Homo sapiens: one gene and its partners. The gene in region 2 interacts genetically with the main gene of each other region. Each region holds a gene or a part of one and is shown on either strand. Other genes may lie near its edges.

Evidence for each region.
Region 1: changes in TOP3A (region 2) and FH are lethal when combined (synthetic lethality), as found in Homo sapiens cells (one large-scale study listed by BioGRID).
Region 3: changes in TOP3A (region 2) and CDC73 are lethal when combined (synthetic lethality), as found in Homo sapiens cells (one large-scale study listed by BioGRID).
Region 4: changes in TOP3A (region 2) and CHEK1 are lethal when combined (synthetic lethality), as found in Homo sapiens cells (one large-scale study listed by BioGRID).

What each region holds. Positions count from the first base shown.
Region 1 is NC_000001.11:241,506,256-241,511,423, reverse strand, and holds part of FH (fumarate hydratase, mitochondrial), read left to right. Parts: intron 1-2,638; coding exon 2,639-2,821; intron 2,822-5,168. UniProt on the Homo sapiens protein: Catalyzes the reversible stereospecific interconversion of fumarate to L-malate. Experiments in other species have demonstrated that specific isoforms of this protein act in defined pathways and favor one direction over the other.
Region 2 is NC_000017.11:18,279,547-18,287,498, forward strand, and holds part of TOP3A (DNA topoisomerase 3-alpha), read right to left. Parts: intron 5,975-7,952; coding exon 5,861-5,974; intron 5,762-5,860; coding exon 5,596-5,761; intron 3,296-5,595; coding exon 3,152-3,295; intron 1,113-3,151; coding exon 990-1,112; intron 1-989. UniProt on the Homo sapiens protein: Releases the supercoiling and torsional tension of DNA introduced during the DNA replication and transcription by transiently cleaving and rejoining one strand of the DNA duplex.
Region 3 is NC_000001.11:193,126,563-193,135,116, reverse strand, and holds part of CDC73 (parafibromin), read right to left. Parts: intron 4,944-8,554; coding exon 4,874-4,943; intron 1-4,873.
Region 4 is NC_000011.10:125,649,626-125,658,179, forward strand, and holds the end of CHEK1 (serine/threonine-protein kinase Chk1), read left to right. Parts: intron 1-4,120; coding exon 4,121-4,222; intron 4,223-5,599; coding exon 5,600-5,695; 3' UTR 5,696-7,522; downstream 7,523-8,554. UniProt on the Homo sapiens protein: Serine/threonine-protein kinase which is required for checkpoint-mediated cell cycle arrest and activation of DNA repair in response to the presence of DNA damage or unreplicated DNA.

The DNA of each region.
Region 1 (5,168 bases), on a different chromosome or scaffold from region 2:
TTGTCTCAGTCCTTTGGGGCTGCAGTAATAAAATACAATAGACTGACTGGCTTATAAACAATAGAAGAAGTTAATTTGTCACAGTTCTGGCAGCTAGAAGTCCGAGGTCAGGCCACTGGCCAATTCATTGGCTTGGTGGGGGCCCACTTTTTGGTTTGTAGATGGCCATCTTTTCTGTGTCCTCACATGGTAGAAGGGACAAGGGAGCTCTCTGGGGTCTCTTCGTAAGGACACTAATTCCGTTCATGAGAGCTTTGCCCTATGAACTAATCACCTTGCAAAGGCCGCATCTCCTAATACTATTACCCTAGGGGTTAGGATTTCACATAGCAGTGACCTTGACACTTTGAAAGCAGTGGTCAGGTATTTTGTAGAATGTCCCTCAATTCTGGTGTGTCTGACGTTTTCTCATTAGATTGAGACTTTTGAATTTTTGAGAAAACTATCACAGAAATAAAGGGCCCTTCTCATTGCATCATATCAGGGGTTCATGATAGCAACATGACTTTTACTGGTGATGTTAACCTTAATCACTTGGTTAAGCTGGTACTTGCCAGGTTTCTCCATGGTAAAATTATAATTTTTCCTCTTCTATACCCTGTTCATTAGAAATAGGTCACTAAACCCTGCCTGCATTCCAGGCACTGTATTTCAGTTTCTAGAGGGAGGAGTATCAAAAAGTTTTTGGGCTTACATTAAAATCACTGTAGTAATTAATAGCGCGCTACCTTGAGGCTAGGCAAACATCTTCTTTTTCCTTAAACTTTTTCCTACTATTTTTAGCATTCATCAGGGAATCTTATCTACAGCAATTACTTCCATGGTGTTTTAATAGTGATTTTCAGTTTTCTTTATTCATTCTACACTTGTTAGTTGAATTTTTCTGCAAGGAAGATTTGTTCTCTCTGTCCCATTTATTTATTTATTCAGTTATTTGGGTATATCAGTATGGACTGATGGTTATTTATTTTATTCTTCAGGTTATGATCCCATACTTTTGTTTATATTGTTGCTTAAATTCTTTCAGCTCTGGGAACCCAATTCATTTGGCTCTTGTGTCCTTTTAGGCATGCCACCATCCTTTTACTTTTCTGAAGTGTGTTCCGACTTCCTGGTACTTTAAGATGCTCCAAGCTCATTGTCTTGTATTGTTTCTGCCCCAGCCCTAGAAACAGCCATTTTTCAAGGAACTGTTGGAGAATTCTTATTGGAAAATGATATTTAGAAACTGAGATCTGGGTGCTAAGTATAATTTAATATATTTTTAAGTAGTAAGGAAGAAGTGTTTTTAATACACGTTCATTGTATAAGGGATTTTCCCAATCTAATACTTGCCTTTATGAATTTATGTTCTATATATACTGAAGTCTGAAGTCTGCCTCAGAAAGGTAGAGTTATAGATGAAACGTGATTGGCTACATGTTGATAATTATGTAAACTATTTGAATTCAGGTGACAGGTACATAAGTGTTTATTATACCATTCATCCTACTTCTTTCGTAAGTACTTTATATTTTGCATAGTAAACGTCAAAATATATAAATAATGTATCTTTTTAAATGACAGTATACTTTTATATATATCTGTGTGTGTGCATGCGTGTGTGTGTGTGTGTGTGTGTGTGTGTGTGTGTGTGTGTGTGTGTTTAGAGATTGTGCTTCACTCTGTCACCCAGGCTGGAGTGCAGTAGAGTGAGCATAGCTCACTGCAGCCTGGAAATGCTGAGCTCCAGGGATCCTCATGCCTTAGCTTCCTGAGCAAGTGGGACCATAGGCATGCACCGCCATGCCTGGCTAACTTTAAAAATGTTTTCAGAGACAGGGTATTGCTCTGTGTTGCCCAGGCTGGTCTTAAACTCCTGGCCTCAATTGATCCTCCTGCCTCAGCCTCTGAAAGTGCTGAGGTTATAGGCATGAGCCACTGCACCCAGCTTGATATTATGTTTTAAAAGTACAGGGTCAACAGTTGAGGAAAGAGCACTGAGTATATACTACCTGGCTAGGTCTCAGGTTTGCCAGTTGCTAAATATTTTGGCATTTATACAGTCTCTTTGAGGGCTTGGCTTTCCTATTTTTAAAGTGGTAATCTACCTCACAGAATTTTTCTAAACTTAATAAAGAGCTGTTTATGAAAGACTGTATGCACTGTATAATTGTAAGATATTCAATTATAAGATTTTATAAGAATATATAATTCAATAATTGATGTAATTTGATATAATTATAAGATATTCAACTACATTGAAGATACTACTGCTGTCTTCAAGTGCAGTTGTTAACTATACTTCTCTGTATTTTGCTGTCATTTATTAGCAGGCAGATATAATACGTAATACATAATATAATACATAATATATTATATAATACATAATATAATATAATACGTAATACATATATAATACATAATACATTCAGTATACTTAATGTGTATAATACAGTTCTGAGTATGTGTTAGAAACCAGGATGCTGCTTATTTGATTCTATAATAACTCACCTATGACATGCCACACATACATGTAACTGAGCTGGGTTTTGAGTAGTTAGTTGGAGAGTTTTTTAATTGAGAAGTTTAATTCAGAAGTTTGTTTTTGTTGCCTCTGATTTAACATTTTATATTTCTTTTGAAAAATTTCCAACAGAGCTCAAATGATACTTTTCCCACAGCAATGCACATTGCTGCTGCAATAGAAGTTCATGAAGTACTGTTACCAGGACTACAGAAGTTACATGATGCTCTTGATGCAAAATCCAAAGAGTTTGCACAGATCATCAAGATTGGACGTACTCATACTCAGGATGCTGTTCCACTTACTCTTGGGCAGGTATAGGAGTTTGACTAATTTGATTCAATTTAGAGCTTGGTACAAATGGCCAATGTGTCATCCTTGAAATCTGACTAGCTTAAAAGGCCAAATTTGTAACCGGAAACTTCAGTGACAGAGGTTGTTCTGTTCAACCAATCAGTAATTTTCATTGACATCCACTTAGAAGAAAAGCAGAGTATACTGGCTATAAGTCAGATTCAGTCAGACTGCTCGGGTTCAAATCTTAGCTTTGCTGTGTACAAGCTATGGGACCATAGGAAAGTCATTTAGCCTTTCTGTGCCTCAGTTTTCTGAGCTACAAAATGAGGAAAATAATTTCCCTTTCATAGGATAGTTGTGAAGCTCTAGTAAGTTGATTTATGTAGAGTGCTTAGAAGCATGCCTGGCACACAGTAAGTACCCATTCATGTTAGCTACCATCATCACCACCGTCATCGCTGTCATCTCCATCAGTATCATCATGGTTTTTCTTTTGTCTTTCTTACCTAAATTAGTAGGTTATTTAAAATTTAATCTCAAAGTGATTAAATAAGGTAGATCTTTTTAAGATGGATCTGGCCGCATGTGAAGGAGATACTACTCTCTTCTCCAAGATATTAGAAAGTATTTTCATGTTTCTTTTTCAATGCCTTAAGGAATATCTAATAGTATACATTGTGAAGGAAATGTAAGGAAATACAGGGAATGACTTTTGTCTTAGTAAACTCACACTCCAATTGGGGTAGCTTAATTTCCTTATGGAAGGAATGAGGAAAACTTGAAATGAGTAATTGAAAAACAAATGATGGGACTAAATTGAACTCACTGGATTGAGTTGCTTCTTAAGGCTGTGTCTCATTTCTCTTTGCATCATTAGTACTTAGGACCATGCATAATTTCTAAGGAGGAACAGTATGTATGTTTTGAAACTTTTGAATATTTCTCAAGTTTCTAATTTTAACCTTTTTTTGGTGTTGAAAACTACAATACTAAATACCATTTGGGCCATGACTCAGCCTCCTGTGTAAAATCATCATTCTTCCTGTTAAGACAGAAAATTACATTTTTCTGTTTGACTTTATCAGAAGCATTTATACTTGCTTTTATTGGGATTGTCTTTTGAGTTCGTGCATTGTTCCCTGTCAAAGTGTATTTTATAAGTGAATCTATCTAGTGTGTTTGTGTGTGTGTGTATACATACAGTCATGTGTTGCTTAGCAATGGGGGTATGTTCTGAAAAATGCATCCTTAGGCAATTTCATAGTTATGTGAACATCACAGAGTATACTCACACAAACCTAGATGGTATAGCCTTCTATACACCTAGGCTATATGGCATAGCCTTTTCCTCCTAGGCTACAAATCTGTGCAGCATGTTACTGCATTGGATACAATAGGCAATCGTAACACAATGGTAAGTATTTGTGTATCTAAACATATCTAAATGTAGAAAAGGTACAGTAAAAATACGGTTTTATAATCTTAGGGTCCCACTGTTTATGTGATCTTTCGTTGGCTGAAACATCATTATGTGGTGCGTGACTGTATATGAGTGATGTTATATCAGATGCATCAGGTCTACCTATAATGAGTTATATCTTTTGAAATGTTTTCTTTAGAACAGTATGGCATCCTGTCACTTATGGTTTTTTAGTGTTTTCAGGCAGGAAAAAAGGATAGATTTAGTGTAACCATGTATCTTGGTTTGTCCAGTTAACTCCCAGTGTATGCCTTTTGTTTCTGCATGACTATTAATAGAGCCCTTTCTGTGTTCAAAACATAAATTCTGTGGTTGCTTTAATTAAGGCATGTCAAAATTTGGAACCAGTGTTGACATTGGCACATTGATGCTATGATCTGACTCTACCGTTACCTCCTATTCTTTTTGGAAGGTCCTTCAATGCAAACTGTTACCTTCCTGTGCTATTCAGTGAGTCATTAGCTTCCCAAGTCTCTGTAGAATGTCTTCATATTTCCTGGTAGGTTTATACACTGAAATTGTATGGAGAATATTTCTATGTTTGCATTTTTTTGGGGGAGATGAGTTACTATTTTTTCTTACACCAAAGTTGTCTGAGGCATCCCAAAAAATAAGAAATCACTTCAGTTTCTTTAGTAGACTGCAAGTAAACCAATAATTTAGTGTAGTAAAGTTGTTCTTTTTAAAGTGTATTTCCTGTGCTGTTTTTCTTTGCTTCCTATTAAAAGACTAGATTATAATAAATAGGCTGCATGTTATCAGTGGCATTGTCGTACCTTATGGTTCTATAAACCCTCATCCTTCCCTATACTTTGCTCATCATAAGATTTGAAGTAGTATAAATAAAACTTGATTAGCTTGTAATTTAGTATTCTGAAAGGTATT
Region 2 (7,952 bases):
CGCCTGGCCATTTTTTGTATTTTTAGTAGAGACAGTGTCTCACCATGTTAGCCAGGATGGTCTCGATCTCCTGTCCTCGTGATCCGCCTGTCTCGGCCTCCCAAAATGCTGGGATTACAGGCCTGAGCCACCAGGCTCGGCCTATTCATTTATTTCTAGAGACAGGGTCTGGCTCTGTCATTCCAGGCTGGAGAGCAGTGGTGAAATCATGGCTCACTACAGCCTAGACCTCTAGGATCAAGCGATCCTCCTGCCTCAGCCTCCTGACCAGCTTGGCCTATAGGCATATGTCACCACATCTGGCTAATTTAAAATTTTTTTTGGCCAGGTGCAGTGGCTCACATCTATAATCCCAGCACTTTGGGAGGCCAAGGTGGGTGGATCACTTGGGGCCAGGAGTTCGAGACCAGCCTGGCCAACATGGTGAAACCCTGTCTCTACTAAAAATACAAAAAGTGGTCAGGCATAGTGGTGCATGCCTGTAATCCCAGCTACTCAGGACGCTGAGGCAGAAGAATCACTTCAACCCAGAAGGCGGAGGTTGCAGTGAGTCAAGACTGCGCCACTGCACTTCAGCCTGGGCAACCCAGCGAGACTGTCTTAAAAAAAATTTTTTTTTAAATAAAAATTTTTTTTTTTAAAGAGATGGGGTCTTGCTACGTAGCCCAAGCTTGGATGTTGTATTTAATATGTGAATAATTTCCTAAGCCTGGTGTAGCAATCATCTATCTGGAGAGGGCAGGGAAAGAGCCCTTCATGGTTCTTTGCCCATGGCCCACTCCAAACAGGGTCATACCTGCCAAAGCAGTGACAGCATGGAACACAACAGAACTGGACCAGCCCTGCTGAACTGGCTGCTGCAGAACACAGCTACGCCCCTGCAGGGCCTGAGTGGAATCCCCGACACTCCTCTCTGGGTTCTGGCAGGAGCAAGGGAAAGATGGTGTACACACTCCAGAGGAGGCACCTGACTCAGGTGCCCAGCTCACCTGTACACAGGGTGTGGCTGACAAACTGGACACACACTGCTGTCCCTGCTGGCCTCCAGCACCGAGTCAGGAAGCCACACAGCTGAGCGACACTCTGGGAAACCCATGCAGCTGAGGTAGAACCTGGGGACAAAGTGCCATGTCAGATGATAGGAGTGCAGGAGATGCTCTCCGCTGTTGGCCATCAGCTAAGGCAGCCTTTCCTCAGCTGCCCGAGGACAACATTCCCTTTTCTGGATGACACTTAACTGGATACACAAGCACTCATATTGAATTGATTGGGAAAAATGAGCCTTCTCACATCCCAAAAGCACAAAGCAGCTATTGCTGGCCCTGCTTTCTATTTAGAAAACCAACAACCAACCAAGCTGACGCCAGGGGCTCTGTGCTGTGCACTCACACATTCTTGCCTTTCTGCCTCGTGCCAAGTCTGGGCAGTGTCAGGGGCCCCCTCAGTTTGCATGTGAGTAAACAGTGGCTTGGTGTGGCCTGGAAACCTGCCCAGAGACATGCATGCATGTGTGGATGGGAGCCAGGAATGGAAACCCATCTGTTTGTGACAAAGCCTCACCTGCAACATCTACACCCCACCCACTGCCCATCCATCCCATCCCGGTCTCTCCTGGCCAATGTTTTTCAACACCTTGCAGTCATGAAACGTTAGGGTTTGACTAGCTAATATGCATGTGATTTACAAATTCCTCATGAGTGTGCCTGGGTACACTATGAAGGAAAAAAAAGCCCCGAACTCCAATCATTTAAATAAGAAATTTACAATCTCAGAAATGGAAATTAACAGATAAATCATGGAGTGGCAAATCCCACAAGATAATCTCCTGACCTTCTGGAGTAACTCAGAGAAGCATTACAAAAGAATAACAGAAGAACAAACGAATAACTAAAGAATAATAATAATTCTCCAATTCAGAGAATTGGAGAATTCAGAGCTAAAACAAAAGTAGTTATTCTCTCTCCTTATATTCCAATGAGTACTAATCCAATAACCTACCGATAGCAAGGAAAACCCATCGACAGCATTTATTAAGTGCTGAAATATACGCCCAGTCATTGGGCTAAGCCTAGAGTGGCACTGGCTTCTGTCTGTGAGTGACGCGAGCCCTGACACCTGCTTCCAGGTCTGGCCCATAGACCTCTTGTTTCTGAGAGCCTGGGTGGCCTTCTCTTCACTTGGGCCAGCCAGGTTAATGATGGCTGGAGGTGAGGAGTTGAGAAACCTCCTTTCTTATTCAGCAGCAAGGAGCACAGCAGTCCCAGGTGGGCCAGGCAGGATGGAAAAAGGCAGTGAAAACCCGGTTTCAAACTCTGCTGCCCACCACGGCTGCTTGACTCCAAGCAAGCACCTCAGCCCTCTAAGCTGCATAAAAATCCCTGCCTTGCAGGGTAGTTAGGAGAATGGGATGAGGTAATGCTTACAGAGCACCACCCTGCATTACACCAGTGAGGGACGGCACCTGATGAATGATGGCTGCCACCCCTCCACCTCGTCTTTCCCCGTGAACTTCCTCCAGTGGCCAGCCACTGGCTCCAACAACCTGATGTGAAGCTAAATTGCCCACTCAGATCTACTATATTTAAAGCGAAAAGGGAGTTGAGATTTTCAGGCCCCATTCAGAACTAAAACTAGGAGAGAACAAAAGTAGTATCTGCTGAGTATCTACAACACATCAGGCAATGTGCTATATAGTCCTGACCATTTTCACCAAATCCTCACCCTTAACACAGCCTTGTAAGTACTGACATTTTATAAAAGAAGAAATTGGGGTTCAGAGCAGGTAAGTAACTTGCTTCAGGCCACACCACTTATATGCGGCATAAGTGGCATTTGAACCCAGACCCACCTAGATCTGAAGCTCATGCTCCTCCATGTGTTACACATTGGGTATATGATGTCCTATCCACAGGGGACAAAAAAACCCCACTATCATTCAGTTTCTCACCTGCTCTGAATTCCCATAGTGCTTTACACCTCAAAGGCCTGATCCCACCCTGCTATGCTTTTAGGCCAACACCTTGCCTGCAGGTTGGCAACAACAGGCCTGTCTTGAAAGATTCCATGGAGTGAAATGGCAGGGTCTTTCGAGCTACGGCTGACACCGCAGGTGCTGGGGAGCAGAGGTGGGGGCAGAAGGCAGCGCACTCACCCGCCATTCTTCTTGGTCTTAAGGACCATGTCCTTGTTGCACTGTGGGCACTTCCTGATGGGCTCTGGCATGGCTGGGTAGATATCTTCTTGCTGGGCCAACTCTGTCCCATTCCCAAAGTACTGGGCCAAGGCCTCGTCCAATCTGAAGAAAAGGCAAAGACAGACACCCATCAGCCAGCAATCGCTGCAAAGGCACCTACAACACTCTTACATGCACACAACAGGCGTGACCTTGAGAACCAGCTGGTCAGTGAGCCGCAGGCCTCCTGCAGAGAACAGACGGCAGACAGAAGACTGAGCTCACCATGGGCCCTGGTGCCGAACCAACTCTTGGGAGGAGAGTCCAGATACAGGCAGATGCTTCTGCTTGTCACCAGCCCACATTAAAAAGTAAAACTGGGCCAAATGTGGTGGCTCACGCCTGTAATCCCAGGCCGAGGCGGGCGGATCACCTGAGGTTGTAATTTCGAGACCAGCCTGACCAACATGGTGAAACCCCGTCTCTACTAAAAATACAAAATTAGCCAGGCATGGTGGCGCATGCCTGTAATCCAAGCTACTCAGGAGGCTGAGGCAGGAGAATCGCTTGAACCCAGGAGGCAGAGGTTGTGGTGAGCCAAGATCACGCCATTGCACCCTAGCCTGGGCAACAAGAGCGAAACTCCATCTCAAAAAAAAAAAGTAAAACTGCACAGGGTCCATGTACAAACTCCAGGAGTGTCTGTCTGTATTAAGTCTAAACTAGCTCATGCCTGCCTTTTCACAACTGGCATGGGGTACTCTAAAGAACAGAAAATAACAAACTGTTATCTTCTATTACAGTCTCACAACACACATCAGACACCAGATGTATGGGAGTTTTCCCCATACACCAAGCAACTCTCCCGCCACACACCAGTTGGACATCCTCTAATTCAATTCAATTCTGACACTATGCACCTGGAGATCCATCTAACGGTTAAGGGCTCAGTCCCAGAAGACTGCTGCCCCAAATTCCCTCAGATGTCAGTCACAAATCCCAGGCTGTGACCTGTGCTTCTGACTGACTGGCTATAAACTGGGGTTCCTCAGACCCCCTCCTTGGTTTGATTCTCAATAGAGTGGCTCACAGAGCTCAGGGAAACACTTTACTTATGCTTACCCGTTAATTACAAAGGATCCAGGTGAATACCCAGATGGAAGCAATGCACAGGGCAAGGGATGTGGGGAAGGGGTAGCTTCCATGCCCTCTCCCAAACACCCACCCTCCAGGAGTCTTTACCTGTTTAGCTATTTGGATGTGCCCCAAACCCAATTGTTTGATTTGTTTTTGTTGTTGTTGAAGAAGTCTCACTCTGTTGCCCAAGCTGGACTGCAGTGGGGCAATCTCGGCTCATTGCAACCTCCACCTTCCGGGTTCAAGCAGTTCTCCTGCCTCAGCCTCCCAGGTAGCTGGGACTACAGGTACGCACCACCATGCCTGGCTAATTTTTGTATTTTTTTTTTTTTTTTTTAGCAGAGAAAGGGGTTTCACTGTGTTGGCCAGGCTGGTCTTGAACTCCTGACCTTGTGATCTACCCGCCTCGGCCTCCCAAAGTGCTGGGATTACAGGCGTGAGCCACCGTGCCTGACCCTTGTTTGGGGATTTTATGGAGGATTTATTACTTAGGCATGATTGACAAATCACTGGCCACGTGTGATCAACTCAACCTCCAGCCCCTCTGCTCTTCCTGAGGTAGGGGTGGGACTCAAAGTCCCAACCTTCTAATCACAGGGTTGGTTCCCTGACAACCAGACCGATCCCAAGGCTACCCAGGAGCCCTTGGCCACTAGTCATCTCATTTGTATACAACAGACACAGCACTTAAAAAATTCCAAGGGTATCAGAAAATGAAGTCCAAATATATATATCTTATTATAAATCATAATATCACAGGTAGAAAACACATCATTTCTAACAAAATACACACATGCTGCTTGCTAAATATCCACCTCTAAATGCTCCAGAAAACAAATGGATCACACTCCAGCACTTGGGTTTACTGATTTAAAAGACTTTGTTGCCTAACTCAAGATAATTAATGTGTCATGTAATTAAAGCAGAAAAAAAAAAGATAATTAAAATCAAGAGAATGGTATTTCTAAAGCCAATAGTTCAGAATAACTGAAGGAGACTGTTCCGATTACTGTTTCTATACTGACAAAGCTCTATGGAGAGTTGTAAAAGAACCCAGAGAAGAAAGTCCAAAGAAAAGGGGTATGTGGAAAACCTCCAGGCCAGGAGGCCACTGGTGAGGATGAATCTGGCAGGGTTATAAACTCTGACTGGCCCAGATGCGGTGGCTCACGCCTGTAATCCCCACACTTTGGGAGGCTGAGGTGGGAAGATCTCTTGAGGCCAGGAGTTCAAGACCAGCCTGGGCAACATAGTGAGACCCCTCTGTATTTCTTTTAAGGACTTACTTCTTTGCTTTAGCCACCGCTTCAATGAAAACCTGCTTGTATTTCTGCACTTGCTGCCTTAGAACCACAAATTTGTCCTTTTTGCCATCACAGATCAGCTTCAGATCAGCTTCCAGTTCAGCCCGGAGGTCAGGCTTAGACATTTCATAGCCCATGGAATCATAACCTGCAGGGAGAGAGTCGAGCTCAGTGAGGGCCCACCTGAGACCCTCAGGGACTTGGGCGACACCACCCACTACCCACTGCAAGCTCTGTCCTCCCTTACCTTCCACAAGTCCCATGCCCAGGTGCCCAGGGAGGAACCGCTTGTCTGGGGTGAGGCCCACGTACATCCGGGCTTTGATGGTCTCGATGTGCTCCGCATGAGTGGCATCCGTACCTGGAAGCCACTTGCTGGTTACTCTGAGGTAATACAGACAACAGCTCCACCCGGGTGGCGCATGGGCACCTTGCTCACCCCGGAATCCCTCCTTTGCCTGGACAGCCTATGCAGGTAAGATGCCTTCATTTCATTCCCATATAGCTCATTCAAGAAATCACAATGGCAACCTCAACTCTCTTGTTCCCTCACATCCCATTACTCAGGAAAGCTGTCAATTCCAGCTTCAAAGCTCTTTTTAAAAATTCTCTTCCCCATGTGTCCAAGCCATACTTGCAGCTTGTGTCCCTATTTCTAGTCTCTTCCTCTACCCTAACCATTCTTTAAGCTGTGGCCAAAGGGACCTTTCAAAATGTAGCTCTGCCATGAAGGAAATGCAAATTAAAACTGCAGTGAAGGCTGGGAGCAGTGGCTTATGCCTGTAATCCCAGCATTTTGGGAGGCCAAGGTGGGCAGATCATCTGAGGTCAGGAGTTCGAGACCAGCCTGGCCAACATGCTGAAACCCTGTCTCTATCAAAAATACAAAAATTAGCAGGGTGTGGCGGCACGCACCTGTAGTCCCAGCTGCTCAGGAGGCTGAGGCAGGAGAATCACTTGAACCCAGGAGACAGAGGCTGCAACGAGCTGAGATGGCACCGTTGCACTCCAGCCTGGGTGATGGAGTGAGACTCTCTTTAAAAAAAAAAAGAAAAAAAAAAGGGCTGGGCGTGGTGGCTCACGCCTGTAATCCCAGCAATTTGGGAAGCCGAAGCGGGCAGATCACGAGGTCAGGAGATCAAGACCATCCTGGCTAACACGGTGAAACCCCGTCTCTACTAAAAATACAAAAAAAAAAAAAAAAAAATTAGCCGGGTGTGGTGGCGGGCACCTGTAGTCCCAGCTACTCAGGAGGCTGACACAGAAGAATGGCATGAACCTGGGAGGCGGAGCCTGCAGTGAGCGGAGATCGAGCCACTGCATTCCAGCCTGGGCAACAGAGCGAGACTCCACCTCAACAATAACAACAAAAAAACAACCAAAAAAACCAGTGAAATAGCAGTTCAGACCTACTGGCAAAATCAAAAAGAGAGATAATACTAAGTGTTAGTAAGGATGTGGATAAACTGGAATCCTAGTGCCTTGCTGGTGGAAATGAAAAACGGTACAGCCACTTCAGAAAAGTTTGGTGGTTCCTAAAAATGTTAAATGTAGAGTTACCAAGTAAACCAGCAATCCCACTCCTAAGTCTACCCAAGAGAAATGAAAACACATATCCACACAAAACCTTGTACAAAACTGTTCACAGCAGGATTATTTATAATAGCCAAAGAGTAGAAACAACTCAAGTGTCCATCAACTGCAACCTCTGCCTTCCGGGTTCAAGTGATTCTCTTGCCTCAGCCTCCCGAGTAGCTGGGATTACAGGCGCCTGCCACCAAGCCCAGCTAATTTTTTCATTTTTAGTAGAGAAAGTGTTTCACCATGTTGGTGAAGCTGGTCTCGAACTCCTGACCTCAAGTGATTGGCCCACCTTGGCCTCCCAAAGTGCTGGGATTACAGGTGTGAGCCACTGTGCCTGGCTCTTTATAGGAAATAACTAAAGTAGGCAAATCTGGCCAGGTGCAGTGGCTCACTCCTGTAATCCCAACACTTTGGGAGGTTGAGGTAGGAGGACAGTTTGAGGGTGCAAGTTCAAGACCAGACTAGGCAACATAGCAAGACCCTGTCCCTACATAAAACAAAAAAGTCTGGCTGGGCATGGTGGCTCAGGCCTATAATCCCAGCACTTTGGGAGACCGAGGCGGGTGGATCATTTGAGGTCAGGAATTCGAGACCAGCTTAGCTAACAGTGAAACCCCATCTCTACTAAAAATACAAAAATTAGCCAGTGATGCGCACCTGTAGTCCCAGCTACTCAGGAGGCTGAGGCAGGAGAATCTCTTGAACCTGGGAGGCGGAGGTTGCAGTGAGCTGAAATCGTGCCACTACACTCCAGC
Region 3 (8,554 bases), on a different chromosome or scaffold from region 2:
AATGTCATAACACAGACACCTAAAAAGGTGTAAGTAAACACATAAATATATATATACACACACACATACACACACATATATATGGACAAGATTTTTTTTAAGTTAGCATTCACCCTAAACATGCAATTTTTAGTTATTCACAACTGGTAAAAAACTAAATTATTTTTAAAATTAAATTACTTAATTTTTGAATGGCTCAACAAAAAGGGGTATACCTGTCCCCATTCACCTAGTTCCCACCACCCTATGCAGCCAACTAGTCTCTTATATATCCTTCTAGAGTTTCTTTCTGTAGATATGAGAAATACAAAATTATTTTTACCCTTTTTAATACAAAAGGTGACATACTAAACATACTGTTCTGAACCCTGTTTTCTTTTTTACCTAACAACTTATCTCCCATAACCCTCCATATCAGTAAGTAGAGCATTTCCTTTACTTTTTTTTTGAGACGGAGTCTCGCTCTGTCACCCAGGCTGGAGTGCAGTGGCGATCCTGGCTTACTGCAAGCTCCACCTCCTGGGTTCACGCCATTTTCCTGCCTCAGCCTCCCGAGTAGCTGGGACTACAGGCACATGCCACCACGCCCGGCTAATTTTTTTGTATTTTTAGTAGAGACGGGGTTTCACCATGTTAGCCAGAATGGTCTCGATCTCCTGACCTCGTGATCCGCCCGCCTCGGCCTCCCAAAGTGCTGGGATTACAGGTGTGAGCCACTGTGCCCGGCCCTCTTTAACCATTTTTTTATAGCTACTGAGTACTCTACTGTATGGCCTAACTACAATTTATTTAACTAGGTCCCTGTTGATGAGCTGTTCAATTTTAGTCTTCTGTTGTTACGAACAATGGCACAATAATATATTAATATAAAGTCACAAGTTTTCATAAATATATAAATGTACATATAGATATTATATATAATGGCAAGTTTTTTTAAAGTTAGCATTCACCCTACACATGTAATTTTTAGTTATTCACAACTGGTAAAAAAGCTAAACGAAATATACCTCTAGGATAAAGTTCCAGACACAGGATTTCTATGTTAAATTTGTAATGTTAGACTGCTGCCAATTCTTCAATGGGGGTGTAGGGGTGCACTGATTAACATTATAACCAACAATATAGTAGAATATCTGTTTTCTCATTGCTTCACCAGAGCATATTATCAAACTTACAGATTTTTTTCTATCAGGTTAAAAAAAAAAAAATCCTATCTCCGTATAGTTTAAATTTGCAATTCTCTTATTATAAATGATATTAAGCATTTTTCATGATTTTATCACCTTTTCTGTGAATTTTATGACATAATCCATAGAGTGTTTGGTCTTTTATGCATAAAGTTCCAGGACCCTTCGTATATTAGTGAGATTAGCCCTTTATCTGTGATGAGTTGAAATATTAACATATTTTCCCAGTTTGTCATGTCTTTTGTTTTTTATAATACAGAACTTTACTACTTTTATCAGCTTGTAACTGAATAATCCCACCTTCCTCCCATTGACTTGACATGTCTCTTTAATCATATGTTAAATTCACATATAGATTTCTAACCTAACAGATAAAGTTTTTTTATTAGTGTATCTAGTCATTTAGTTGTTTCAAATTATCAGGGTTTTAAGTTCTCCAGAATGACTAGCCTTTTCTCAATGCTCTTCTACAAATTTTTAGGATGCTTACTTTTGCCAATGAACTTTAGAATCACCTTGTCTAGTTCTATTCCTACCTCAAGAAAAACTAGAGATTCTTATTGAGACCATGTTAAATGTATAAATTAAGAACCAACATCTTTAGCTATTATGTCTTCCTAAGAATACGGTCTTAATATTTGCTCAACCTTTTCATTAAACTATTAAATTAACAGTTTTTAAAAAGTGGCAAAGCAATACGCTTAGTGACTAACTCTGTCCTATAAAAACTGCCAGGCGCGGTGGCTCACACCTGTAATCCCAGCACTTTGGGAGGCCGAGGCAGGCAGATCACAAGGTCAGGAGATAGATACCATCCTGGCTAACACAGTGAAACCCGGTCTCTACTAAAAATACAAAAAGTTAGCCAGGCGTGGTGGCAGGCGCCTGTAGTCCCAGCTACTCAGGAGGCTGAGGCAGAAGAATGGCATGCACCCGGGAGGCGGAGCTTGCAGTGAGCCAAGATCGCGCCACTGCACTCCAGCCTGGGGCGACAGAGCAAGATTCCTTCTCAAAAAAAAAAAAAAAAAAAAAAATCTACAGGAAATGACATAGATGGATAAAGGGCAACTCTACTTTTGATTCTAAAAAGAAAAATCATTTGCTCTAAAGTGCTTCCCCAAAACTAGCCTATTTATCAGGCTCACCTGCGATGCTTAAGAATAGAGAATCTTAGACCTTATATCACATCTTCTGAAGCCAAAAACAAACAAACAAAAAAAACCACTATTTTCAAACCATATGATTCTCATCACTTAAAAAGTTAGAGAAACACTGCTCCAAAGAATCAAATTTGCTTTGATTAAAAAAAAAAAAAATGGCTGGGCACAGTGGCTCATGCCTGCAATCCCAACACTTTGGGAGGCCAAGGGAGGAGGACTGCTTGAGCCCAAGAGTTCAAGACCAGCCTGAACAATGTAGCGAGACCCCATCTCTGAAAGAAAAAAAAAAGTTTCTTCTATCCTCCCCAACTCCATCCTCTTCACAGAATTGAGACTCCCTCTTTAATACTGCTGGGTTCTAAACTTTTGTGTATCCAGTCTCCCTTGCATGACAGTAAACATGTTTACATGTTTAAGACAGGGATTTGGCATTTTGCACAACACCCAGCATAATGCCTTTTAAGAATAAGCACGTAATAAGTCCTTATTGAATGAGGACAGCATAGGAAGAAAGCATTCCTAATGATGATCTTTCCATTATACACAAGATTCTCTGTGGAAATCAATCTTACTGCTTAAAGCCATGCATGACAAGACAGCTGTTAATGACTTAAAGGTACTACACGTCACACTCAGCAAAGTAAGACCCAATAGTTGTATTATATCAATGTACTTGTACTCTGTAAGAGAGTAAATTAATAATTACTCATTTATTCAGTTAAGAACCTACCATGCACCACTATTGTAAATGCTGGGTATTTAACAAGACAAACAACTGTCTGTCCCCTTAGGATTTACCTTCTAATGGGAAAGACAGACACTATGTACATAAACAGATATATAATTTCAGGTCAATGTATGAGATCTGGTGAAAAATAAATCAGGATGGCACTATATAAAAACCACAGAAGGAGGAAAGGAATACTATATTTTCGATAAGAGTGGTCAGAGAAGTCTTCTCTGATGGAACAACATTTGGAAAAACACTTGAGCACAGATCTAAATGAAATAGTAAGCAAGTGAGCCATGTGATAATGTAGAGAAAGACAACTCAAGATAGAAAGAGAAAGTGCAAAGGTGCTAAGATTAGCATAGCTAAAAGACCAAAAAGACTGACTGTTATGAGCAAAGGAAGAATGGTAGAAGATGGAGTCACAGAGATTTAGGCAGAGGCAAGATGACTGCCAGGGTAACAAGTATGAGTTTTATTCTAAGAGTGATGGGAAGCCACAGGTGAGTGACACAATCAAGTTTATATACTTTTTCAAAAGCAGGACACTCTATTGCTAAGACTACACTATAGGAAATAAAGAGTGGGGACCTGTGAGGAAGCTATACAATAATCTAAAAAGCAAGGATGAAATAGGGCAGGTAGAATGGTAAGAAGTTGTCATACTTTTAAAAAGAGAAAAAAACAACTTGTTGATAGAATGGATGTGAGATGTGACAAAGATGTCACCAAAGTTCTGGCCTAAGCAACTGCAGGAAGAGCGTCTCACTACCCCTTACTAAAGTGGGAACACTGAGAAAACAACAGACTTGTTTTTGTTCTGTGTGAGGGCAGAAGGGAAAGAGGGAATCAGGCATTCCATTTTCAGTGTTAAATTTCAGATGCCTATTCAACATTCAAGGAAACATGTTGACAGTAAATTTATAAATCTGGTGCCCTGAAAGAAATCAATGCTGAAAAAAACACTTGAAATTTCATCAGCATATATATGATATCTGAGCCATAAAACTGAAAGAGATCACCTAGAGAATACAGGTTAAAAGAAAAGATAAAAAAAAAGATCAAGTCTTGGAAACTTCAAGAATTAGAGGTCAGGTACAGAAGTAACCAAAATAAACTGAGAGGTGAACAACGAGTAGAAAGAGAACCAAGAGGCTGGTGTTCCAAATGCCAAATGAAGAAAGGCTTTCAAAAATGAGTGGTCAACAGTATCAAATGCTGTTGAGAGGTCAAGTATGGTACAAGAGACCAAAGGATGTAGCAATCCTTAAATCAGTTTTGACCTTACAAGGAGTGATTTTAGTGGGATGGTAAGGATGAAGGCCAGACTAGAGTGGCTTCAAGAAAGAAACAAAGGTAAAAAAGAAGCAATGATACCACACGAACTCTTGCAGAATATTTTACAGTATCAGGGAGGAGATAAATGAAGCAGTAGACAGTAGGAATGTGGGATCAAAAACATTTTTTAAACATGAAATCTTACTGTAGGTATTCTAAAAGGGAATGATCCAGAAGAAAGTAGAAAACTGATGATGTCAGAGAAACAACAATTTACGAAGACAAAGTCTTTGAGACTGTGAAAGGAGATGGAATCCACACACAAGGAAGGGGTGACTGGCCATAAGGGCAAAGACAGTGCATCCACTGTATAAGAAAAAGGTGAGCACATGGACAAAAATGAAGGTAGGTTAATTTTTTGGTGGAAATACAAATTCTCTTCCCTCTAATCATTATTTCATAGGGGAAAAAAGAAACAATGTCTGTTTAAGACTGGGAACAATTTAAAAAGTACTCACACGCTTCACCATTGAGATATCCAAGTAGATCTTTTCGATCAGGTCTTCTAACCACAGGAATATTTTCAGTCTAAAACCAAAATTTTAAATGAGATATGAAATGAATAACAATGATACACAACTTAATAAATATTAACATGTAATGTCTGAATTTTATTCCAACATATCTTGAAAAAACGTATTTTAAATCACATTTGTAAAAAATGACTAGGCTAAAAGAACCTAATAAAAATCCTGAAAATTTATTAAACATGTTAGTTACTTTTAATAATTTTCTTACAACTTGATATTAACATGTAATGTCTGAATTTTATTCCAATATATCTTGATACAATATATTTTAAATCACATTTGAACAAAATGACTAGGCTAAAAGAACCTAATAAAAATCCTGAAAATGTATTAAACATGTTACTTTTAATAATTTTCTTGGCTGGGCGCGGTGGCTCACACCTAGAATCCCAGCACTTTGGGAGGCTGAGGTGGGTGGATCACCTGAGGTCAGGAGTTAAAGACCAGCCTGGCCAACATGGCAACACCCCGTCTCTACTAAAAAGACAAAAATTAGCTGGGTGTGGTGAAGCATGCTTGTAATCCCAGCTGCTCAGGAAGCTGAGGCAGGAGAATCACTGGAACCCAGGAGGCGGAGACAGGCGTTTCAGTGAGCCGAGACTGCACCACTGCACTCCGGCCTGGGCAACATAGAGAGATTCCGTCTCTAAATAAATAAATAAATAAATAAATAAATAAATAAATTTCTTTTTGAAATTCCAGGAAGATATACAGAAAATAATCATTAGAAATAAAGCAATGACCAGGCACAGTGGCCCACACCTGTAATCCCAGCACTGCGGGAGGCCAAGGCGGGCGCATCCCTTGAGGTCATGAGTTCAAGACCAGCCTGGCCAACATGGTCAAACTCCATCTCTACTAAAAACACAAAAATTAGGCAGGGCGCAGTGGCTCACACCTGTAATCCCAGCACTTTGGGAGGTCGAGACGGGTGGATCATGAGGTCGGGAGTTCAAGACCAGCCTGAGCAAGATGGTAAAACCCCATCTCTACTAAAACTACAAAAATTAGCTAGGCGCGGTGACAGGCACCTGCAGTCCCTGCTACTCGGGAGGCTGAGGCAAGAGAATCGCTTGAACCTGGGCGGCAGAGGTTGCAGTAAGCCGAGATCACGCCACTGTACTCCAGCCTGGGTGACAGAGTGAGACACTGTCTCAAAAAAAAAAAAAAAAAAAAAATTAGCCGGGCGTGATGGCAGAAGCCTATAATCCCAGCTACTCAGGAGACTGAGGCGAGACCCAGTCTGAAACACAAACAAACAGTGCAAGAAAAATTGGTAGCTAACAGATTTCAGTTTAAATCCTTTGTCACTTTATATGTGTAACAATGAAGTAACAACAAGAACCTTTAGTATCTTTGGCCAATGACCTTATATTGAATACTTATTATAATTTACTGCACCAAACATTCTGCACTGACTCCTCAATGATTTAGATAAACTGTATTTAATCACTTAAAAATTAACCTTTTATTTTAAAAAGGTCAAGCTAAATTTTAGTTTCTCCTTATGAGTTTAAAAATTTGAGTGCAGAGTTTTTTTGTGCTTGTATTCTTTTAAACCAGCCTAGGCCAGGCATGGTGGTTCATGCCTGTAATCCTAACACTCTGGGAGGCCAAAGTGGGTGGATTGCTGGAGCCCAGGAGTTCGAGACCAGCCTGAGCAACATGGAAAAACTCCAACTCTACAAAAATATAAAAGTTAGCCAGGCATGGTGGCAAGCGCCTGCAGTCCCAGCTATACTCCCAGCTACTCAGGAGGCTGAAGGAGGAAGACAACTTGAGCCCGGGAGGGTAAGGCTGTGGCAAGCCAAGATCCTGCCACTGCACTCCAGCCTGGGTGACAGAGCAAGACTCTGTCTCAAAAAAAAATAAAAAATAAAAATAAACCAGTCTATATGGAATATCATAAACAGTTAAAAGATTTGAGTTAATTTTAAGTTACTGTTTCTAAGTCTAATAACTTACATCATCATTTGGTCACTACTGAGTTATGTACACATCACAATCCACTGAAAAAGATTACATCTACTCACACTAAAATAGGAACTAAGGATCAGGAATCTGTTTTCAGAGTGGTCTGCTCAGCCGGACGCAGTGGCTCACGCCTGTAATCCCAACACTTTGGGAGGTCGAGGCGGGCGGATCGCGAGGTCAGGAAATCAAGACCAACCTGGCTAACGTGGTGAACCCCCGTCTCTACTAAAAATACAAAAATTAGCCAGGCATGGTGGCGTGTGCCTGTAATTCTAGCTACTTGGGAGGCTGAGGCAGGAGAATCCCTTGAACCCAGGAGGCGGAGGTTGCAGTGAGCCGAGATCACGCCACTGCACTCAAAAAAAAAAAAAAAAAAAATGAGTGGTCTGCGCACAGGAAAGAGCAAATAACACAAAGTAATTAGGAGACAACAATCTCGAATTCATAGAATTTTGGAATTTTAGAATCCTACTCTTTCAATCTGGCAAATACTTATGAAAAATGAGTTAAATCTTATGCAACCAAGGGTCCCAAGGTCCACAGTAACAATTACAGCTATCAGTTATATGCACAACCATTTCCCAAAAACAGAATCTATAAATCTAAGCCAACTATCTGAATCTTTGTTACACTAAAATGAATATATCCAACAAAACACTGTAAGAACTACCTAATTTAGTTTTTAAAGATCTGAGTTAAAATAACCTTAAAGACGGAGCTGGTGCTATTTTTTTCCCCTTATTTTCCCAAGTAGTCCCACTCTAATTTTATTTTTTTAAATATGTAACATAAATATATATTTCTTACTCAGGAAAGCAGAAGCCTTATGGTTTAATACAAAGCCCACTAAGTGACGGGATACTTTCTCAATTGCTATAATCACACACACACACACACACACACACACATTTTTTTTTTTTCCCTGAGACAGAGTCTTTGCTCTATCACCCAGGATAGATGCATTGGTGTGATCATGGCTTACTGCAGCCTCAACCTCCTGGGCCCAAGTGATCCTCCCACCTCAGCCCCTTGAGTAGCCAGCTGGGAGTATAGGTGCACACTACCACGCCTGACTAATTTTTTTTATTTTTTGTTTTAACAAAGTTTCCCTATGTTGCCCAGGTTGGTCTTGAACTCCTGAGCTCAAGTGATCCTCCCACTTGAGCTCAGCCTCCCAAAGTGCTGGGACTACAGGCATGCACCACCACACCTGGCTTTTAGTTGCTTTAGACAACAAGTTATTGTTTGAAAGATACATAAGCCAGAAACCTTAACTATTTCTAGTTGGGAGGGAGGTTAGAGTTATAGAAGTTAAGTTTCACACAGCTTAATGTGATCCAGCAACGGTGTTAGGTAACTCAAAAAGCAGCTCCAGTGATGACAGACACAGTGATATTTTAAAAAATTGTTTTAAGAACTATAAGAAAAGTTTAAGAAGATTGTTTTAAGAACTATAAGAAATGGGAAAAAGTAGTTATTTATAAATACATTTCATACTTAATTTTAAGTGTATACTTGTAAGCAAAAGCAACAAATATTAAAAGCAGACATTTAATTATTTCAATTATATCTTCAAAAAATTTTATGTTCAACTCTACCAAAAATAATCTGAGGGAAAAGCTCATTTAAAAAAAT
Region 4 (8,554 bases), on a different chromosome or scaffold from region 2:
CTTTAGGTGGGAGGATAGTCTGAGCCATTGGAGATCAAGGCTGCAGTGAGTCGTGATCTGATTGCATGACTGCTCTCCAGCCTGGGTGACAGAGCAAGACTGTCTCAAAAAAAAAAAAAAATCGCTTCTTAGCCTTTTGGCTAAGATCAAGTGTAGTATCTATTCCTATCAGTTTAAGTGCCTTAATTTCTCTTCCACTTTTTGGACAGGTAGTTTTGCTGGATATAGAATTCTTATTAGCTTTTGTCTTTCAGCACTTTGATTATGCCACTACTGCCTTCTAGCCTTTGTGGTTTCTGATGAGAAATCAGCTGTTAATCTTACTGAGGATCTCTTTTATGTGAGACGTTGCTGCTCTCTTGCTGCTTTTATGTTTCTCTGTTGACCACAGTTTGACTATGGTGTATCTTGGTGTGGATTTCTTTTTTCATTCTGTTCGGAGTTCGTTGAGCTTCTTGGATATGTAAATTAATGTTTTTAATCACACTTGGGAAGTTTTTGGCCACAATTTCTTCAGATTTTTTTTTTTATATCTAACTCTCCTCTCCCTCTTGGACTCATTATGTTTATTGTTGGTATACTTGATGTGCCACAGTTCTTAGACTCTGTTCATTTTTCTTTATTCTTCTTTCTTTATGTTTCTCAGGGACAGTTTTGGTTGCTGTTTTTCCTTTATAAGGGCCATACTTTGTTTCCTTACATGCTTTGTAATTTTTTGTTGAAAACTGGACATATTGTGGCAATATGTGGCAACTCTAGAAAGTCAGATTTTCCCCTCTTGCCAGTGTTTGTTACCGCTTGATGTAGTTGTTTGTTTTTTTTAGTGGTGTTTGTTTTTTTTTTTTTTTGAGACGGAGCTTTGCTCTTGTTGCCCAGGCTGGAGTGCAGTGGCGTGATCTTGGCTCACTGCAGCCTCCACCTCCTGGCTTCAAGTGAGTCTCCTGCCTCAGCCTTCCAAGTATCTGGGACTACAGGCACCTGCCACTGTGCCTGGCTTTTTGTATTTTTATTAGAGATGGGGTTTCATCATGTTGGCCAGGCTGGTCTCGAACTCCTGACCTCAGGTGGCTGGGATTACAGGTGTGAGGCACCATGCCCGGCCCTAGTGATTTTTCTTATATAATTTTTTAAAGTTGGTATTGTTTGTCATGCATGGCTGTACAATTTCTGTCCCATTAGTTTTAGTGGTCAGCTAATGATTGGACAGAGATTTCCTTAAATTCTGTATACCAAAAACAAAAAATCTGCAGAGTGTTCTGTATTTGTGTTGGGGCACACCTGCAATACTCAACCAAGAAGTTTACAACGTTGCTTCAGCCTTCGCTATCTGCTTGTGCAAAATGCAAAGTTAGGGCACATGTAGAGCTTAGGGGCCTTCTCAGCTCTTTCCTAAGCATATGTACTGCCCTGGTCATGGGTGTGTCTTTTTAGATTCCCAGGTATATGTTGGACCTTTTCAGAGTCCTATTCCCCAGAAACATCTCACTCCCTAACCTCTTCTTCCAAACTTCTTGGGTAGTCTGTTTGCACCAGTTGCTTTCATTGCTTCAGGCAACAGAGACTAAAGCATTTTCCTGTAAGTGTTTTCAGCAAACGCTACTCAGGAGTAGCTTTAGCACAAGGTGAGTTAGAGTTACAAAGGTGAAATAAAGACAAGCCTCTTTTTTTTTTTTTTTTTTTGAGATGGAGTCTCGCACTGTTGCCCAGTCTGGAGTGCAATGGTGTGATCTCAGCCCACTGCAACCTCTGCATCCCGGGTTCAAGCGATTCTCCTGCCTCAGCCTCCCAAGTAGCTGGGATTACAGGCGCCTGCCACCACACCCTACTAATTTTTGTATTTTTAGTACAGACAGGGTTTCACCATGTTGGTCAGGCTGGTCTTGAACTCCTGACCTCAGGTGATCCACCCACCTCGGCCTCCCCAAGTGTTGGGATTACAGGCATGAGCCACTGTGCCTGGCCAGGACAAGCCTTTTGATCAGGTCATTTTAGAGGGTCAGATCGGCTTAAGATAGTTTGTAAATGAGGTTTATTCTGCTCCCACCTGGACCTATGCCTTAAATATGAACTGTTATTTTCAAGGCTGCTACTGAGTGAGGAGCAGGGGATAAACAGGGTAAGTTAAAATGCCAGAAAGCTCACTGTTCTTACTGCGTTTCACTTGTTTTGAATAAGTTGCTGCAAGCTTTTAGCTAGTTTACAATGTTCTGAAAAAGTTGATTCTGACAGGCTTTGGCAGGTTTTTAAAATTGCTTTTGTGGAGTAATGGACTTCTGGAGTTCTTTTCTCTGCCATTTTCACTGACATCACTCCTTGATTCACTCTCTCTCAGTTCTTGAAGTATTTTCTTTGTCTTTGAAGTTTAAGAGCTTAATTCAGATGTGTTGAGTTGAATATCTTGTATTAATTTTCCCAGAACATAGTGGGTTATTTCAGTGCTGCACAGTCGTGGTATGGTTGTGTGTTTTCATAGTTTCTTGAAGTAAGAATTATTACAAAAACTTTTGTAATTTGGGCTGTGTTTTTTGGGCAAATCTGCTGATCTCGCTCGGGCTTAACTCATCCAGCTGTAGTCATTTGATGTCTTTACTGTGGCTGGTGGTCTAAAACATCCTTACTCCCATATTTGGAGTCTTGGCACTGTCTGTTAGCTGAGTCTTTTCTTTCTGCATCATTCAGCTAGGCTGAGCGTCTTTCCATGCCATAGGAACGTTCTAAAAGACTGAAAGTGGAAGTTGAAGGCCTCTCAAGACCTTTGCCATCTTCTAATTGCCGCTCTAGCTTTTCAGCCACAAGTCAGGCCTTTTTCTTTCTCACATTTTAATAATCTTGTTTTTCCTCCCATTATGTTTTCATCTTTGATTGTTTCTTCTTTCAGTGGTATTTTGGTAAAAGACAGTAAGTTTTGTTGCTATGAGTTCATATACACTCAATCCCTAGGAGCTGCACCCCTGTTGATAGATTGGGTTGGGGACACACATACCCACTGGGAGAAGAGAGACTCTGGAATGAGTGAGATTATCAGCATACTTAATATTACTCCTGTTATGGAGGTAGCCAGCAAATTTTTTTTAATTGATACAATAATTGTAATGTATTCATGGGGTATGTAGTGATGTTTTGATTCATATAATGTATAATGATCAGATCAGGATAATTAGCATATTCATAATTTCAAACATTGTGGGAATGGGAATGTTCAGTGATGGGAATGTTCAGTATCCTTCTAGCAATTTGAAACTCTATTATTGTTAAGTATAGTCATCCTACAGTGGTCTAGAACTTACTCCTATCTAGCTGTAATTTTGTATTCTTTCATGAATCTCTATCTTTCCCTTCCCTCTCCCCTTCCTGGACTCTAGTATCCTCTGTTCTGCCTTCTACTTCTATGAAATTAACAGTTTTTTTGTTTCCACATATGAGTGAGAACATGTGATGTTTAATTTTCTGTTCCTGGCTTATTTCACTTTACATAATGTCCTCCAGTTCCACCCATGTTGCTGCAAATGACAGGATTTCATTCCTTTATATGGCTGAGTAGTATTTCATTGTGTATATATATCATATTATCCTCATCTGTTTGCTTGGCTTTTTGTTTTGTTTTTTTGAGACAGGGTCTCGCTCTGTCGCCCATGCTAGAGTGCAGTGGCGCAATCATAGCTCACTGCAGCTTCAACCTCCTGGGCTCAAGTGACCCTTCTGCCTCAGCCCCCTGAGTAGCTGGGCCTGTAGGCATGCACCACCATGCCCGCTAATTTTTTGGGAATTTTAGTAGAGATGAGGTATCGATATGTTGCCCAGCCTGGTCTGAAGCGATCCTTCTGCTTTGGCCTCCCAAAGTGCTGGATTACAGGCGTGAGCCACAGTGCCTGGCCTACACTCATCTGTTGTTGGATACCTAGGTTGATTCCATATCTTGGCTATTGTGAATAATGCTGTAGGGTTGCAAATTTCTCTTCCATATAATTTCCTTTCCTTTGGATCAGTAGTGGGATTGCTGGAACATATAGGTAGTTTTATTTGTAGTTTTTTGAGAAACTTCTATTCTGTTCTTCATAGTGGGTTTACTAGTTTATTATCTACTCACCCATGTGGCTTAACCTTATTTTTGTTGCCTTAGGTTACTATATCAACAACTGATAGGAGAAACAATAAACTCATTTTCAAAGTGAATTTGTTAGAAATGGATGATAAAATATTGGTTGACTTCCGGCTTTCTAAGGTATTTTTATGTTTTATTGTATTCTTTCTATGGAAATATTTCTATATGAATTTTTTTAATGGCATTATGTTTGTATATATGTGGCATTTGTAAATAGGTTACTTGCTTTTTTCGTTTAATATTATGAGCATGTGTTTTCGTTATCTATTTTTCCCGAACATTGTTTTTTTCAAATGACATTTTCCTTATTATAAAAGTTTTTGCCAGGCGTGGTGGCTCATGCCTGTAATCCCAGCACTTTGGGAGTCCGAGACGGGTGGATCTCGAGGTCAGGAGTTTGAGACCAGCCTGGCCAACATAGTGAAACCCCATCTTTACTAAAAATACAAAAAATTAGCCAGGCGTGGTGGCGGGTGCCTGTAATCCCAGCTACTTGGGAGGCTGAAGCAGGAGAATCATTTGAACCTGGGAGGCGGAGGTTGCAGTGAGCCGAGATGACGCCACTGCACTCCAGTCTGGGTGACAATACAAGAGACTCTGTCTCAAAAAAAAGAAATTTCTGCTTTTGTGAAAAATGTAGATAAGCAAAAAATGAGAAAATAAAAATAATTCTAAATTTTCAGTGATCACATTAATATTTCGAAGCATTTTAATATTTTTCTTAATTTATGTCTTTTAATAAAAATTATGATTTGTTACAAATATTTCATTATAATTTAATGAACCTTTACCAGTTATAATAATTCTGTGATTGCTATTTTATGCATAGATTTTTTTGTTCATATTTCTGATGATTTCTTTAGAAATCATTGATTCTAAGATGATAGTATTACAGCCCTTGATATATAAAACCAAAATAACATTTTTCTCTATTTTCTGAGAGATTGTATGTGGCTCTAAAGAGGGTTGGAGGGGTAGCTGCTGTGTTAGAGCATTTGCCGCAGTACTCTTTGTATTAGAGATTTGCTGCAATACTGTTTTTCAGATGCTTGCTACAGAATTAAATTAAGATCGTAGTATAATGAAATTCTTCTCATAACTAAATCTATTGATTTTGGTCAGTAGTGTTATGACAACAAGACTTCAGTTTAGTTGTATAGTTTATTGTTAGTTTCCAAACCCTCACTGCCTATGGAATGTAATGACTTAGGTCCAGATATACCAACACCTGAAACAGATAGGATGCCATGTTTATCTGCTCTCTGAGCTCAGTGCAGTAGGAACAGTGATGGGCATGAAACCACATCAGAATTATTTGTGTAACAATTTTCTCTTCCAGGATATTTGGTCTTCATAAACAGACCGAAAAGAAAATGGTAGCTAGACATACCTAAAGATGTTTGTCTCTTGTTACCACTACAAAGAGATTGATTTTAGGACAGAATTTTGTTTTTGTTTTTGTTTTGACATAATTTTTTAATACTATTTCTAATATAGGGTGATGGATTGGAGTTCAAGAGACACTTCCTGAAGATTAAAGGGAAGCTGATTGATATTGTGAGCAGCCAGAAGATTTGGCTTCCTGCCACATGATCGGACCATCGGCTCTGGGGAATCCTGGTGAATATAGTGCTGCTATGTTGACATTATTCTTCCTAGAGAAGATTATCCTGTCCTGCAAACTGCAAATAGTAGTTCCTGAAGTGTTCACTTCCCTGTTTATCCAAACATCTTCCAATTTATTTTGTTTGTTCGGCATACAAATAATACCTATATCTTAATTGTAAGCAAAACTTTGGGGAAAGGATGAATAGAATTCATTTGATTATTTCTTCATGTGTGTTTAGTATCTGAATTTGAAACTCATCTGGTGGAAACCAAGTTTCAGGGGACATGAGTTTTCCAGCTTTTATACACACGTATCTCATTTTTATCAAAACATTTTGTTTAATTCAAAAAGTACATATTCCATGTTGATTTAATTCTAAGATGAACCAATAAAGACATAATTCTTGTGACTTTTGGACAGTAGATTTATCAGTCTGTGAAGCGAAGCCAGCTTCAAAACATATCCCCAAGATTTGTACTTATATTTTCAAAAGGGCCTGGCCAGTTATATAAACCTGTTTTTGAATTATAATGATTAATTAAAATTGCAAGTAGGTGTTTTTTCCAGTGTAGTTAGTAAAATACTTGTATTTTACAGTGTTGCATAAACTCTAGTGCTTAACTAACTTTACTCTAAAAATTACTGTTGAACATCTTAAATATTTTTCTATATTTTCTACTTTCATAGCCATATTTTAACCTTTTCAACTTACTGGTGACCAAGCTTTTAGGTGATAAAGAATAAAAGAGGGAAGGGAAGAGTAAGGAAGCTATAAGAAAAATAGATCTGATTCTTTGTTCCTTTACCTGTTAGACTTACAAAAAGTTTGTTTTTCTAATAAAATTTGTATCAACTTTGGGGCATATTAGGTTGAGGCCTTGGCTCCTGCCTGTAGTCCCAGCTACTTAGGAGGCTGAGAGAGGAGGATCGCGTGAACCTGGAAGTTTGAGGCTGTAGTGAGCTATGATTGCACCAGTGCACTCCAGCTTGGATGACAGAGTAAGACCCTACCTCTAATAAAAATTTTTAAAATTGTAAAACATTATAAAATTAATCAGTTATTTTAATCTGAAGCCAAGAACATGTAGAATGTTATGATTAGAGTTTATCACATATTAATGTATACTGGCAAATTGTGTTACTGGAGTATACCCATAGGAGGAATAAATTCAAACCTGTTTTATTTATTTGAACCTATTTACGGTATGCTTAAGAATTGAATCAGTATAAATTCTCAAATATGGGAGAAATTTTGTTCTTGAGAATTATCTGAGTCATTAATATTTTTCAAAAACAGCTCTCACTGACTTGAACCTCTTCTGTAAGCTCTAACCTTTTACCTGCTTTACATTTCCACTTGAATGTCTAGTAGGCATCTCTTGACCAAAAACAGCTTTTGATTCCTGTTCTCCAACCTGTTCCTCTCCTAGTTTTCTCCATCTCAGAAATGTTACTTCCTCTGCAAAGTCTTTCCCTGACTTATCTAAAATAATAACCTCCTCTGTTTGCTGTGGGAATTTGTATAGAATGGTGGGAAAATTTCAAGTTTCATATTTGGATTAGCTCTGACATTTATTTATCTGAACACTGGTAATTGCCTCAGTAAAGACACTGATAATAAGTACCTTTTAGAGTTATTTTAATCTTTAATGCTTTAATGTGTAGGAAGAGTATAGTGTCCTGTTTTGCACAGAAAGGCATTCTGTAAATAATAAGTTGCCTTAATTTTCCTGTAATGTTCATTATATTGTTGTGGGAAGGTATTTACTCCTATTATTAAAAATAAAAATGTGTAAAATTTACTACCTGAAGATAACAGTTCAAATTTTGATGGAAAAATCAACCTATGCTTGTGTGTGTGTGTGTGTGTGTGTGTGTGTGTAATGTGTACAGTGTGTGTGGTTGTTGAGATAAGCATAATTATATAAAAATATGTGTGTGTGTGTTTAATGTGTACAGTGTGTGTGGTTGTTGAGATAAGCATAATTATATAAAAATACATAAAATATGTACACTTCAATGTGCAGTTGTAAAGTTAACATTCACTTAACCACAACTCAATTGTAGAAAGATCATTTACAGACCCTTAAGAACTTCCTATATGCAGTCTCCCAATCACAACCCACTTCTTTCCCCCAGAAATAATCACAAAATAGACTTTGGTGATAATCTTTTCCTTCGTGTGTTTTAGAGTGTTCTCAGCTATTTATGCAAATAATATCATTTAGTTTATGTATTTTTAATTAATATGGTTTTTATTAACGAACTTTATATACATTTTGCTGTATTTTTCATGTGTTGATTTTTTATAGCCATGCTTTTGTGCATATTGAATTCATTAATTTTAATTTTTATATAGGATGTATTTATGAACATCCCACTAACTATTCTGCTGCTAATTGATATTTGGATTGTGTACAGTTCGATGCTATTATAAAATTCTTCTAAGGACATTCTTGTACATGTTCATTTGTTTTGCTAGGTCCTAGAGTCTAAGGTATATATCCAGAAGAGGAATAGCTGGATATTAGGATAGAATAATGACAAACTGTTTTCTAAAGTGATTGTACAGATTAGTGTTTCCATAGGAGAAAAGTGTACAGTTACTGGAAAAACAGTTTGGAATGATCTAAAGCATAAGAATGTTCATAGCAACAGAATGTATTTCTAGTATTCCAAATTTTCACCTACAGTTGGTGTGGTCAGTATAAGTTGTTGTTTTTGTTTTTGTTAATGTTTTTTTTTCCTTTGAGACAGGGCCTCACTTTGCTGCCCAGGCTGGAGAGCAGTGGTACAAACATGACTCACTGCAGCCTTAGCCTTGCAGGCTCAAGCAATCCTCC